Linked DNA regions of Homo sapiens: region 1 is linked to region 2. The links come from fine-mapping of genetic effects on gene expression. Tissue or cell type: whole blood. Region 2 holds a variant in brackets; the other region holds the start of a gene. All regions are shown on one strand. Distances are from middle to middle.

What was found. PIP is the estimated chance that this variant, and not a neighbour inherited with it, causes the effect.
Region 1: EIF4E starts here. The variant in region 2 is fine-mapped to the expression of EIF4E in whole blood (INTERVAL, PIP above 0.99).

The regions. Positions count from the first base shown.
Region 1 is chr4:98,924,688-98,931,957 of GRCh38, forward strand. EIF4E (eukaryotic translation initiation factor 4E) reads right to left here and starts at 4,446. Exons shown (of 7, transcript NM_001968.5): 1 at 4,408-4,446. The coding sequence starts at 4,425. RefSeq lists an enhancer at 4,840-6,039.
Region 2 is chr4:98,877,853-98,883,951 of GRCh38, forward strand. It overlaps EIF4E (eukaryotic translation initiation factor 4E), which reads right to left. Exons shown (of 7, transcript NM_001968.5): 7 at 1,424-3,290. The coding sequence ends at 3,176. Among named protein-coding and RNA genes, the nearest start is that of EIF4E, 48 kb to the right of the region's middle. The variant C/CA (reference allele first, on the strand shown) is at 2,983.

The DNA.
Region 1 (7,270 bases), 47 kb after region 2:
GTTCAAGCGATTCTCCTGCCTTGGCCTCCCCAGTAGCTGGGATTACAGGCGCCTGCCACCAGGCCTGGCTAATTTTTGTATTTTTAGTAGAGACAGGGTTTCACCATTTTGGCCAGGCTGGTCTCGAACACCTGACCTCAAGTGATCCCCACCCGCCTCGGCCTCCCAAAGTGCTGAGATTACAGGCGTGAGCCACCGCACTCAGCAAGTATATTTTTTTCTTTTAATTGAAGAAATCTGGAATATGAACCCCAGAGCCAAATTTACGTGGATTATCGAGGAACTCTGATATAGTGGGTTCTTTCATTAAGCAAAAAGTCCACTAATTTGCATAGTCTGGTTGGCATTCAATTGTTCATTAATATGAATTATATAGTACAACAAATATTTGTCAATATGTATATAAACCTTATTTACTCTTATTAATAAGCTGTGTAGTACAGAGCATGTTTCCAAAGTATAAAAAAGGAAGCATTAAATTAGCTGATTGTCCAAGTTGATTCACTTATGAAATTAGCGTGGTTTCAAAAAATTCAAGAGCTACAATGTAAAAACAAGTAAAATTATACACTTTCAGTTAAGCTAAAGAAATCAAAATTAATCTCTTACCTCAAAAGGAACTACAAGTCAAAAAAAAATTTTTTTAATTCTAATAATGAACGATGTAGAATGAAGATAAAGCTACAAAGAAACACGACCTACTGGAGGTAAGATGGCCTTGCCATTTTCACAGACTAATATTAAACCTAATTTTGACCCAGCCACAATTCAAATGCCGATAGAATAACATCAGAGTACCGTTTGCCCTAACGTTCAAATTTTTGCCAAATTATCCGTTAAGAGGTAAAATGTTTCCCTTAATTTTCCCTTTCAAGCTTCTCAACAAATTTAATATTTGTGGGCCACATCTTCATGTAACTCAACTCATACAAAGAGAAAACCACACAATAATATCAAACTGAAAATGATATTTTATGTAATGTCCATAGACAAAAATCATCCAGATACCTATGCATGATGGGATAAGCAGGAAAAGCCCATGGCTCTTTTTAAGTGTTTATGATTATGCACAGCAGAAAACCATTATGGAAGCTCACAAACTAGCTGAAGTAAGAAAAAACATGATTTTTGCAGCCTTCAGCAGGGGTATCTCAAGTACAATCCAATTCTAATCAGTTGCTTCAAAAAAAAATCCAGGCGAGGCTCGGTGGCTCACGCCTGTAACCCAACATATTGAGAGGCCAAGGTGGGAGGACCACTTGAGTCCAGGAGTTTGAGACCAGCCTGGGTAACCATCGCGAGATTCCATCTCTACAAAAAGTTTAAAAATTATCCGGGCGTGGTGGCCTGCTCCTGTAGTGCTTGCTACACCAGAGGCTGAGATGGAAGCATCTCTTGAGCCCAGGAGTTTGAGGCTGCAGTGAGCTATGATCGCGCCACTGCACTCCAGCCCCAGCAACAGAGCAAGATCCTGCACCCCTACACACAAAATCCAACTATTTAAAACTGTCAAAAATAATTCCACATAACTAGCCTGTGCACAAGGGTATATTAAAAGTACTAAAAATTTTCAGGCCAGGCGCGGTGGCTCATGCCTGTAATCCCACCACTTTGGGAGGCCAAGACGGGCGGATCACCTGAGGTCGGGAGTTGAAGACCAGCCTGACCAACATGGAGAAACCCCATCTCTACTAAAAGTACAAAATTAGCCGGGCGTGGTGGCACATGCCTGTAATCCCAGCTACTCGGAAGGCTGAGGCAGGAGAATCGATTGAACCCAGGAGGCGGAGGTTGCGGTGAGCCAAGATCGCGCCATTGCACTCCAGCCTGGGCAACAAGAGTGAAAGTCAGTATCGAAAAAAAAAAAATTCATTTCTCACTAAAACTAAACACTTCGATACTATTTTACATATATTCTCAAAATACTTTAGTTTCCAGCTTCACACACTTTGTTTTTAGGTTCCCCTACTCCCCAAATTTAAACATAACATCCAAATCTCCCAAAGTCTGTACCAGAACAAATACTGTATCACTAACCACATCCCTAGGAATTAAGTTCCTTAAGGGTTTACATTCAACAAGACTCACATCTTGTATAACTTTGTATCCTAAAGAACACTTGGTACAACACCCTGGATATATCAGGAGCTATTAATATTTACTAACTCAAAATATAGTCCTTCATCACTTTGCAGTTCCGCTCTGTGCTGCTGAAACAAAACTGCATAAACTCTGCAAAACTCAAGGGACCTAAATGTGACAGAAACCTCACAGAACTCCTTATTGTTTTATAGTTTACAGTCTCGTAGCCTTGCCCCTATTACCAGATGTAATGCTTTTTACTGACACTAGTGTAGTGGGGTAGGAACAGATCTAGACAAAAGTGGACATCAGAACCTGTCAAGGGGTTTAAAATGTATATTTTACATACTTATTCTTCATTAGTGTTATGTAATATTAATGTCCTAAAGTCAGTTAACTGTAGCAACAACTTATGAGTTTTTCAGTCAATTTAATTCCCAGGAACATAAATGAAAACTGGTGCCAATAAAAAAACAAGTAAGCAAGCAGAGAAGCTGCCTTGAATTTTGACAAGGTAAGGATAGTTTACACCAACGCAATGAAAAATAAGCCTTTGTGTAGTCTATAAGAGTTTTTGAAATAGTTTTATAAAAGTCTTTAAAAGTGCCGGGTGCTGTGGCTCACGCCTGTAATCCCAGCACTTTGGGAGGCTGAGGCGGGAGGATCACTTGAGGTCAGGAGTTTCAGACCAGCCTGGCCAACATGGTGGAACCCCGTCTCTACTAAAAATACAAAAATTAGCCAGGCACGGTTGTGCGCACCTGTAATCCCAGCTACTCAAGAGGCTGAAGCAGGAGAATCGCTTGAACCCGGAGGCGGAGGTTGCAGTGAGCCGAGATCACGCCACTGCACTCCAGCCTGGGCGACAAAGCAAGACTCCATCTCAAAAAAAAAAAAAAAAAAAAAAAAAAAAAAAAGTCTTTAAAAGTCAAAGCAAACTGGTAAACCATTAGCAAAACCACAAGCTACCATGAAAAGATACACAAAAGTATCTGGCAACCAAGGTCTAGAGCTGGTTCCAGAGTGTGAAAGGTTTTCTGATTGCTAATAAACCCCATTATGCACACAAGATATCTTCACTTAGCTGTGTCGTTTCTAAAAAGGCAACAGGGCCCAGAAGTTTCAGTGAGCCAGTCCTGGCAAACCCAAATTATGAAAAATATACCCTCTGCTTAAAGATTAACTACAAACCTACCCTGGGACCAGCTTGCTTCAGTTAAGTTTAAAATGGTGCCTAAATTGAAATGAAAGTCTGTAGCATAGATAAAGAGAAAAAAAAAGTCAAATGGAAAAGTAAATTTAAAAGTTTCTATTTCCAATAAACTGCGTCTCAGAAATCTTCCAGGAGATAAAGACTCGGAAGAACAGAGGGATTGAGACCCATTCGCATTCTCTGAGGCGTGCGCACTACGCGGAAAGGATGAATGAATGGAAGACGGGCGCGTGTGAAATGCAGCAGGTCCGGCCGGCAAGCCGACCGGCTACAGCGATCTGTAGGCCTCGCTCCTCCCCCTTCCCTCCTCCATGACAGCCCAGTCCCAAGCATGGAGGGGCGAGGACAATGTGATACCCCTTCTCACCACCACCATCCCTCATTCTACTTGGAGAGCTTCACCGTGACACACGAGTGTTCCTTCCCACCCCAGACCTTTCTCGCTTCCCCTGGCGCAAACACCGGCAACTCTCCGGCGCGCTGGATTAACAGACGCTCGCCCCTCTCAACTCCCCTAAGCGAGGTCGAAGCTCCTCCGCGCGTGCCGCGGCACCACTCCCGCCTAACCCACCCTCCGGCAACACTCGCCCACCAGCTCCCCAGTCCACCGGTCTAAGGAAGACGTGCGCGCGCCCCGCACCCGAGCCCCGGAGCTGGGGTTCTGCAGGGAGGGAAAGGCTGCTCCAGGGCTCCCTCCTCCATCTCACTCCAGGCCGGCTCGCCGCCCACCCTGCCTGCGGATCCCAGTACTCGCTGGGAGCCGGCCCTGCGCCTTCCTATCATGAAGACACCATCCTCGCATACCCAGCCCAGAACCCCAGCTACCCTCCACCCTGTAGACACCTCGCGGTTCCGCAGGAGGCGCCACGCCGCCCCTCCCCCACACCGCTCCCCCAGTTCTCGGGCCCCCACCAGAAAGTGTGCGCTACACGCCGCCTCGGCCATCCTCCGGGACGTCCCCACTTGTCCGCGGGAGGTCAGGTCCAACATGAAGGGGAAGGGGCGGCAAGGGGTACAGTGCGCGCCGGGAACGCCGTCCCGCGGAGTCCCCCAGTCAGAAGGAAGACGGAGCGCGGGGACCCGTGGGGGTGGGGGCCAAAGGCAATACTCACCGGTTCGACAGTCGCCATCTTAGATCGATCTGATCGCACAACCGCTCCAGAAGGGGGGGTAAGAGGAAAAAAATGAGATTCAAACCGGATTGGCCAGCTTCTGGCCACGTGACGGATATGTCCGTTTGGCCCTGGCGGCACCTGCGCAAGACTGCGGCTGCGTGAGTAACGAGAGGCTTCTGGGAAGTGGAGTCTCTCCCCCACCTTTTTTTTTTTTTTTTTTTTAAGGTAAAGAAATTTTTTTTAAAAAGGACTGGTCACGTGGCCGATGGGTAGGGTGCGCGGTTCTCAACGCGGCGGACACTCGCTTGCTGGAGGGTGGTTTCAGTCCTCTGCTCTTCCGCCTGGATAGCTGCGGTCACACTTACTGCCAGGCAAGCCTACTGTGCCCTTTGTCGCCCTGTCCTCCCATCTTCCCCGGAAGGTTGGGAACTGCAGGCTCAGCACACACAATAAGGCTTCATTTGCTTAGTTGAGGTCCCAGGACAAGTTGCCTGTGTGTTTATTTAGTTTTCTTTTGATCTCCCACCATTTTCTCTTAGTTTCAAAAAGAGGCGGCGATGCAGAGTCGTTTAGGCAATCAACCCTCCCACGTCCCCTGGCTCAGCTAATGCTGGTGGTCATTCGTTGCCATTTCTGCGAAAGGGGACGGACGGAACCGCCCGCAGTACCCGCTTGCCACCGGCTGGACGAGGGGGAGGGACGACAGCTTTTACTGTCCCAAATCCTGAGATTAAGACCTCAGGGCTAAATCTTGCGTGGCGGTAAAAATTATTTGGAAGTTCTGTGCAACCGTTCCAATATTCCGCTTTTACGTGCACGGAAATAGCCTAAGTCCAGATGCCAGCCAGGGAAGCCACTCCGGGCCCCGCTGACTAAGCCCTGGACTGATGGTCTGGAGTCTTTAGGCCGGGTCAACTATGACTCTTGACGTTGACTCATTCTCCTTAGGCGAGTGACTTAATCGCTCGGCGTCTCAGCTTTTTTATTTATGAACCAAAGGTGATGATACACTTACCTCACAAGGGTGTGCTTCGTAATGACTGTAACCGGCTTTGAAAATGCATCGGACTCTAGAAATGATTCATAATAAGCAACTGCGTGCCTTCCTAAAGATCAAGTGCTTCTGCTTTTTTTTTTTAGCAAAGTTTAAATTTTTTTCTGTTTACTTTGTTTGATTATGATGTACACCAGTGTAGTTTTAAATGTTCAGGACCATTTTTTTTCCTTTACAACTGCAGCTGCCCTCAATAGAGGCTTTAATGTTCATGAAATTATTGTTATGCTCACAACAATCACTGGCAATCAGAAATTTGTCCCCACACTGGCATCCTACATTTCCTTTCCCTCTAAGATACTGTGCTGTCATTTCTCAAGACCGTGTTTTTTGCACAGTTTGGCTACTAATAACAACAAATAGAGATGAAGAAATCTAGTAGACTCCTAAGGTTCTAATGAAGAAGACACTGTCTCATTACTATTTCCCATGCTTTTAAATAATGTTGACACCAGGAAAAGGAGTGTATGCAGGCTGCCTGTGCCTGTCTGCTTATAGTGTTAATGAGGTCCAGAGCTGTGTCATACCTATTATTGAGTACATAATGGATGCTTGAGTTGACTAACACATAATTGAGGCTGTATGAGAACTCAAAGCCATTGCCTGTTCATATGTTTTGGTTTACCTGAATATCAGAAGTGATTAATGAAAGCTTTTGTCTAGTGGGCTTAGCTCTACTAGGTTTTAAAGTAGATAGAATTAACAGGCCAGGCGCAGTGGCCCACGCCTGTAATCACAGCCCTTTGGGAGGCCAAGGCGGGCGGATCACCTGAGGTCAGGAGTTCGAGACCAGCCTGACCAACATGGTGAAACCCTGTCTCTACTAAAAATACAAAAATTAGCCAGGCATAGTGGCACCTGCCTGTAGTCTCAGCTACTCAGGAGGCTGAGGCAGGAGAATCACTTGAACCTGGGAGGTGGAGGTTGCAGTGAGCCAAGATCCCGCCACTGCACTCCAGTCTGGGCGACACAGTGAGACTCCATTTCCAAAAAAAAAAAAAAAATGATAATAAACGGATAAGTGGATTTCTACTTACAGAGACTATCTACTGTTACTTAGACTATCCAAAATAATTCTGTTGACCGCGTTGTTATTTTCTGCTGGTTAGAAGTGGTGTCAGGTTACCTTCTTTGAAGAGAAAAAGACAGCATAGATGTCCTATTTTCCCCTTCCCCACCCTTCCCCACCCTTCCTCTCCCTTCCCTACCCTTCCCCTCCCTTCCCTTCCCTTCTCTTCCCCTCCCCTCCCCTGTCCTCCCCTCCCCTCCCTCCCCTCCCCTCCCATTCTCTCTCTCTCTCTCTCTTCCTTCCTTCCTTCCTTCCTTCCTTCCTTCCTTCCTTTCTTTTTGTCTTTTCAGGGTGTTGCTCTGTTACCCAGGCTGGAGTGCAGTGGCATGATTATGGCTCACTGCAGCCTTGACCTTCTGGGTTCAAGGGGTCCTCCCACCTTAGCTTCCCAAGTAGCTAGGACTACAGGCATGGGCCACCATGCCTAGCTAATTTTTTTATATTTTGCAGAGACAGGAGCGTCTAGCTATGTTCCCCAGGCTGGTCTCAAACTCCTGGGCTCAAGCGGTCCCCCTACCTGGGCCTCCCAAAGTGCTGAGATTGCAGGCATGAGCCACCATTCCTGGCCAGATGTCCTATTTTCATGAAGCTGTTATATAACAGCAAAAAATCAATGAGATTGGCAAGAAAATACCTATAGGACTGAAAGCCAGTGATGTTCTTAAAACTTTTTTTAAACAACAGTTTCCATTTTTATTAAATTTTCTGTTAATCAAAAAACTCGGGCCGGGCACGGT
Region 2 (6,099 bases):
ACTTCCCCAACTGACTAACACAGTGAATCTAGGGAAAATTTCCATCTATTACTAGATTCATTACCAAAGGGAGTAAAATGGAGAAATGTTTGCATGCCCGACCTATAACAAGCTGAGGTGATTTACTATAGCCTATTAGACAGGCTGTACCCTATGGAGAAAGTGTTATGTAATTATTGTCTCTGGAACCAAATTTCCAGAATTCAAATCCACCCTTTGCAATTTACAAGCAAAAGTTAAATTCTCAGTAACAGCACCTACATCTCAAAAGATTATTCTGCAGGTTAATAAGCATGTAAAGTGACTGAACTACTGCCTGGCACATAAATTATTACTATGTAGTGTTATAATTATTTAATTGCATAGTATGCATTAAATCCTTCTGTAGAATTGGGATAATAAACTTTAAATTCATTAAATGAAATGTCACATGCCTACAATAAACTGCTATTCACCCATTAAAGCCTATTTCAATTCTCTATTATGAAAATACATCTATTTGGGCTGGGTACGGTGGCTCACACCTGTAATCCCAGCACTTTGGGAGGCAGAAGCAGGCAGATCACAAAGTCAGGAGATTGAGACCATCTTGGCTAACACAGTGAAACCCCGTCTCTACTAAAAATACAAAAAAAATTAGCCGGGCATGGTGGCAGGTGCTTGTAGTCCCAGCTACTGGGAGATCACGCCACTGCACTCCAGCCTGGGAGACAAAGCGAGACTCCGTCTCAAAAAAAAAAAAAAAAAAAGAAAATATATCTATTTAATCTATTTATAATATCCTGCTAAACAGAGAGAAAACAGTAAGTTGGAAAATAACATATAGCCTAATTTTGTATTTAGAGAAGATGCTGATAAAGTTATAAAAGTTGCAAGTCACTGTACTATTTAAGTGGCAACTGCCAAAAGTGATTCAGCGTAATTTATTATCCTTTCTTGTCCCCAGGAAAAAGGTTTAAAATAACATCATGATTCTAAAATGGTAATACCAATAATCAAATGCTACACATCAGTTATTTCAAAAATTTAGAACTGTATACATTTAATGTGTTAATTCCTCCTTTGCACCTAAAAGCTGATGCTTAAAATTGGACTTCATCTTAGAATTAAGAAAATAGATCAATTTATAATAGATACACTACTTCAGTCCCACCCACTGCCAACATACCAGTAACATCATCACTTTTAAGTAAACTCTTGAAGTACTCAAAACTATACATATTGACATAGACAGTAAGTCACCTTAACCAATTACCCAAGTTTAACTAGCAGATATTATGTACAGTATGCTGAGATTATAATAAACACAGAATTCTGATTCAGTATTTCTAGAATACTGAACAAGAGGTGTTTGTGGCATTGAGAGTACTGTGATAACCTGTGGTACCCTTTAAACTGCTTTAAAATTTTACAATGAAATCAGTGCTATTAATTTCATGTTTATTTCATACAGGGTTTTTGTCAAGTTTATCAGTTTTAAAATGATTAAGTCATAATCACCATTCAAAGACAAATTTTCCTCTCAAAATAATAATTTCCATTCTGCTACCTACAGTTTGGCTTATCCTTTGGTCTGATAGCCATACTTCATCTCACAGGACTATACAAGTATGTACTATGTACAAAACATTTTCAAGTTTGCTTTCAAATGATACCTACAAAGAGTAGATCAAGTTTTCAAGTTTACAGAATACCATACTACAACAATTTACCACTATAAATATGTCTTAACACCTGTTTATTCCATTCTATTTAGATTGCAACACTAACAAGATTCTTAATGCATATGTCCCCACCACCTGTACTTTCCCTACACTATCATTTTGACACTTAACATAGAAACAACTCAATTCAGCAACCAAGTTTTACAACCACTGTTGCTACCAATCAAATGGTGATGCATCAGATCCCAATTCTCATGAGTATTAACATATTAAGAGAGTACATTATTTACCTAAGACTGAATGACTGTGCCTTACTTTATAAAAAAACAAAGATAGCCACATCAATTTAATTCCATATATATGATACTACCTATTCAATTTATTAAAAATTGTAATAAACATAATAATCAAACTAGTGCTCCAAACTTATGCTGTTCACATGGAAGACACCACAAAAGAAGACATAATATAGAGACTGCCTTGCAATAAGAAGTACAAATTCCTTCTATAAAGATGGAGAAATAAAAGGACAAATCTAGTTGTCTAAAAGACAATTCACTGTACACATTTTATTTACAGTTTTGTACACTGTCTTAATATGAATGGGACTGCTTTTCTACTTGAGCCATTTTTAACCAAAGCAAAATAACCTAAGTAATACAAAGTGTTAAAATACAGCATAAAGATACAAAAACAGACATACTAATTCTAGTTAGGAATGTAATTATGATGTTACATTTTTTATAATCCACAATTATGTTTAGGAAATCACACAAACATAGATCACTGATTTGAATGAAATGCATAAATTTGTAGCAAAGCTTTGTAGTTACAAAAAACAAAAAAAATTACCAAAGAATGCACAAAATTAATGTTTATTCCACCTTTGTGTCATATTCCTGGATCCTTCACCAATGTTACATGAGGAAAAAAACAAAAGCAAAACAAATGAAAAACTGAAATCAGAATCACTAATATTATCAAGTAGGGAAACAAATAAATTAAAATCTAGCAGCCATCAGCAAGAGTACAGCAAAGACAATGCTGTAAAAAGAAACAAAGAAAATTGCTAGAAAACTGTATGCATCATAATCTTTCAAACCAGCAAAATATGCTTCTGCATAAAATGGAACAACAGAATTTTTTTTCCTGTAAAGTATAGAAATGCCAAGTTGTTTTCTGACTATTGTGGATAGGTAAAATCTGTATGTAATTAATGGTAATTCTACTGAACTATTACAGAGTGGGCCAGGAACACATTTATGGATTCTGGGGATGTGTACTGTAATTCTTTGATTGGGATAGTGGAAACTCTAGC[C/CA]AAAAAAAAAAAAAAAAATGAACACAGAAGTACAAGACAAAGGCGAATGAGACTTCTCTTATATCTGAGTAACATTAAGATGGAAATCAAATTTAAATGCAGTCCACTCTGCTTTTTGAAGAGGCTTTGGTTCAGCTCCCAAATCTCGATTGCTTGACGCAGTCTCCTATGAGAATACTCAGAAGGTGTCTTCTTAAACAACAAACCTATTTTTAGTGGTGGAGCCGCTCTTAGTAGCTGTGTCTGCGTGGGACTGATAACCAATCACTATCTTTGGAGGAAGTCCTAACCTTTCCTTGTATACCCTCCTAGAAGAAAAAAAAAAAGAAGAAGAAAAAAGTAGTCATTAACTTTTACTCACAAGAAATACATTTAAAAATTTAGGGTTATTAGTCTTTATATTAAAAAACATAGACTTGAGAATAAAATAGGAAATTAATTATACACCCTTTTCCTTTCAGCACAATTTACTCTTCATTTTTGCGATATTCTTGGTTAATTACTTTTAAAATATTTGAGAGCGAGTCAGGTATGTTATTACTAAATTACAGGAGCATTACTATATTATTATATTGTTATTTATTATGATACTATAATTATTACTAAATCAACAGTGAACAAAGTAAGGACAGTCCCTGAGCTGACTGCATTTATAGTCTAGTAGAGAAAACATAATCAAATAATCACAAATACATGACAGACCTGTATCACATGCATACTTAAAAACAGAAATCTGTAAAACAAACATGTTTCATTCTTTGATCTAAAATGTTACATTTCACGTCTGAACCCTAGCAAATATTGTATATTACTACACAAATTATATTAACCATACCTGTTATAAGACTGCACAAACAAAAACTAAACACTTTGAGGGAGATTAAACACTTCGAGGGAGTGAATGAAACACTTCGAGGGAGAATGTAATTTCTGCTTTACATACTAACTTTACAACCTAATTTTCAAGTAAGACATGACTCTATTGCAAGAATAAAATGGCACTTGTCATGAGTGCCAAAGAGTAAACATAAGGGCTGTGATACTGTATAACAAGGAGATTCTAATCTCATCTACAACATTAGAGAAGTCTTCCCCTTTAAATATCACGAGGTCAAAAGGATAATGTTAAGAGAATGAGCACATTTGAAAGCTGAGAAATAAAAATTAGGCTGTGTGGCTATGGCTTGTAAGTAAAGTGAACATGAGATAAAGCTGACAAGGTTTCAGAGGAAGATCACAGAGAGCTTCATAGGTCATCTTAAAAATTTGAATCTTTGGCTGGGCGCGGTGGCTCACGCCTGTAATCCCAGCACTTTGGGAGGCCGAGGCGGGCGGATCACGAGGTCAGGAGATCGAGACCATCCTGGCTAACATGGTGAAACCCCGCCTCTACTAAAAATACAAAAAATTAGCCGGGTGTGGTGGCAGGTGCCTGTAGTCCCAGCAACTCGGGAGGCTGAGGCAGGAGAATGGCGTGAACCTGGGAGGCAGAGCTTGCAGTGAGCTTGAGTGAGACTGTGCCACTGCACTCCAGCCTGGGTGACAGAGCAAGACTCCGTCTCAAAAAAAAAAAAAAAAAAGAAAAAAGAATCTTTAGGAAAAAAATAGTAAAAATTCAAAAATAAGCAAAAATCAAATAAAAATAAAGGAATAAAGATATTAATGGAGTTAAATCCTCCAACATGATACTAGGATAGGTTTTTTTTATACCTTCCAGAAGATTTACTACCTTCCCCCTAAAATAAGGTATTAAAAAGTAATTTTATGGTAACTAAAGTGTTAATTATCAAATTTGCATTATAATGCAATGCATTCCTTTCAATTATACTTAATTATTAAAAATGTCAAAAAGCAAGACCATTGAGTCATGCAAATTGGAAGGTTAAAAAAGAAAATCTTCGTTTGAAAATCTGAAGTCTTAATATACACTCAAAAACATTTAATATTGACAAAAATACAAAACTTCCGTAGGAAAAAAATTCTTAATTTAACTCATTTAAAAAAAAAAAAAGTAAATCCTCCAAAATTAGGTTTTGATGCTGGAAGAAACATTAAAATATGATGACAAATCAACTCTTTTCTCTTATGGAACCCCATATAGCATGAAATGTAGAAAATCCCTATACCTTTTGATCCAGAAATAAATTATGTTCACATAAAAATTTACATGGCTGAGAGCAATGGATCACGCCTGAAATCCCAGCACTTTGGGAGGCTGAGGCAGGTGGATGACTTGAGGCTAGGAGTTTGACACCAGCCTGGCCAACATGGCGAAACCCTGTCTCTACAAAAACTACTGCAGTGGTTCAGGCCTGTGGTCCCAGCTATTCAGGAGGCTGAGGCAAGAGAATCACTTGAACCCAAGAGGTGGAGGTTGCAGTGAGCTGACATCGCGCTACTGCACCCCAGCCTGGGCAACAGAGTGTGACTCTGTCTCAAAAAATTAATTAATTTTAAAAAGAAAAATTAATAATATTTGAAAAATCACAAAGGGGCAAACCAAACATTTTGACCACTGACTGACCAGCACTTAATTTTAACATAAAATTGTAAGTCAAATTTTTTTTTTTTTTTTTTTTTTTGTGAGACAGTCTCGCTCTGTCTCCCAGGCTGGAGCGCAGTGGCCCAATCTTGGCTCACTGCAAGCTCCGCCTCCCGGGTTCATGCCATTCTCCTGCCTCAGTCTCCCAAGTAGCTGGAACTACAGGCGCCCGCCACCACGCCCAGCTAATTGTTTTTTTTGTATTTTTAGTAGAGACGGGGTTTCACCGTGTTGGCCAGGATGGTCTCAATCTCCTGACCTTGTGATCCACCTGCCTCAGCCTCCCAAAGTGCTGCGATTACAGGTGTGAGCCACTGCGCCTGGTGTCAAATATTACTAATATAATTGAGGTAAAAAGAAATCTTAGAAAAAAAATGTCAGCTGGTTTAGCATGGTGGCTCACGCCTGTAATCTCAGCACTTTGAAAGGCTGAGGTGGCTTGATCAAGTCCAGGAGTTCATGACCAGTCTGGGCAACATGGCAAAACCTCTTCTCTACAAAAAATACAAGAAAATAGCCAGGTGTGGTCATACACACCTGTAGTTGCAGCTAATTGGGTGGCTGAGGTAGGAGTA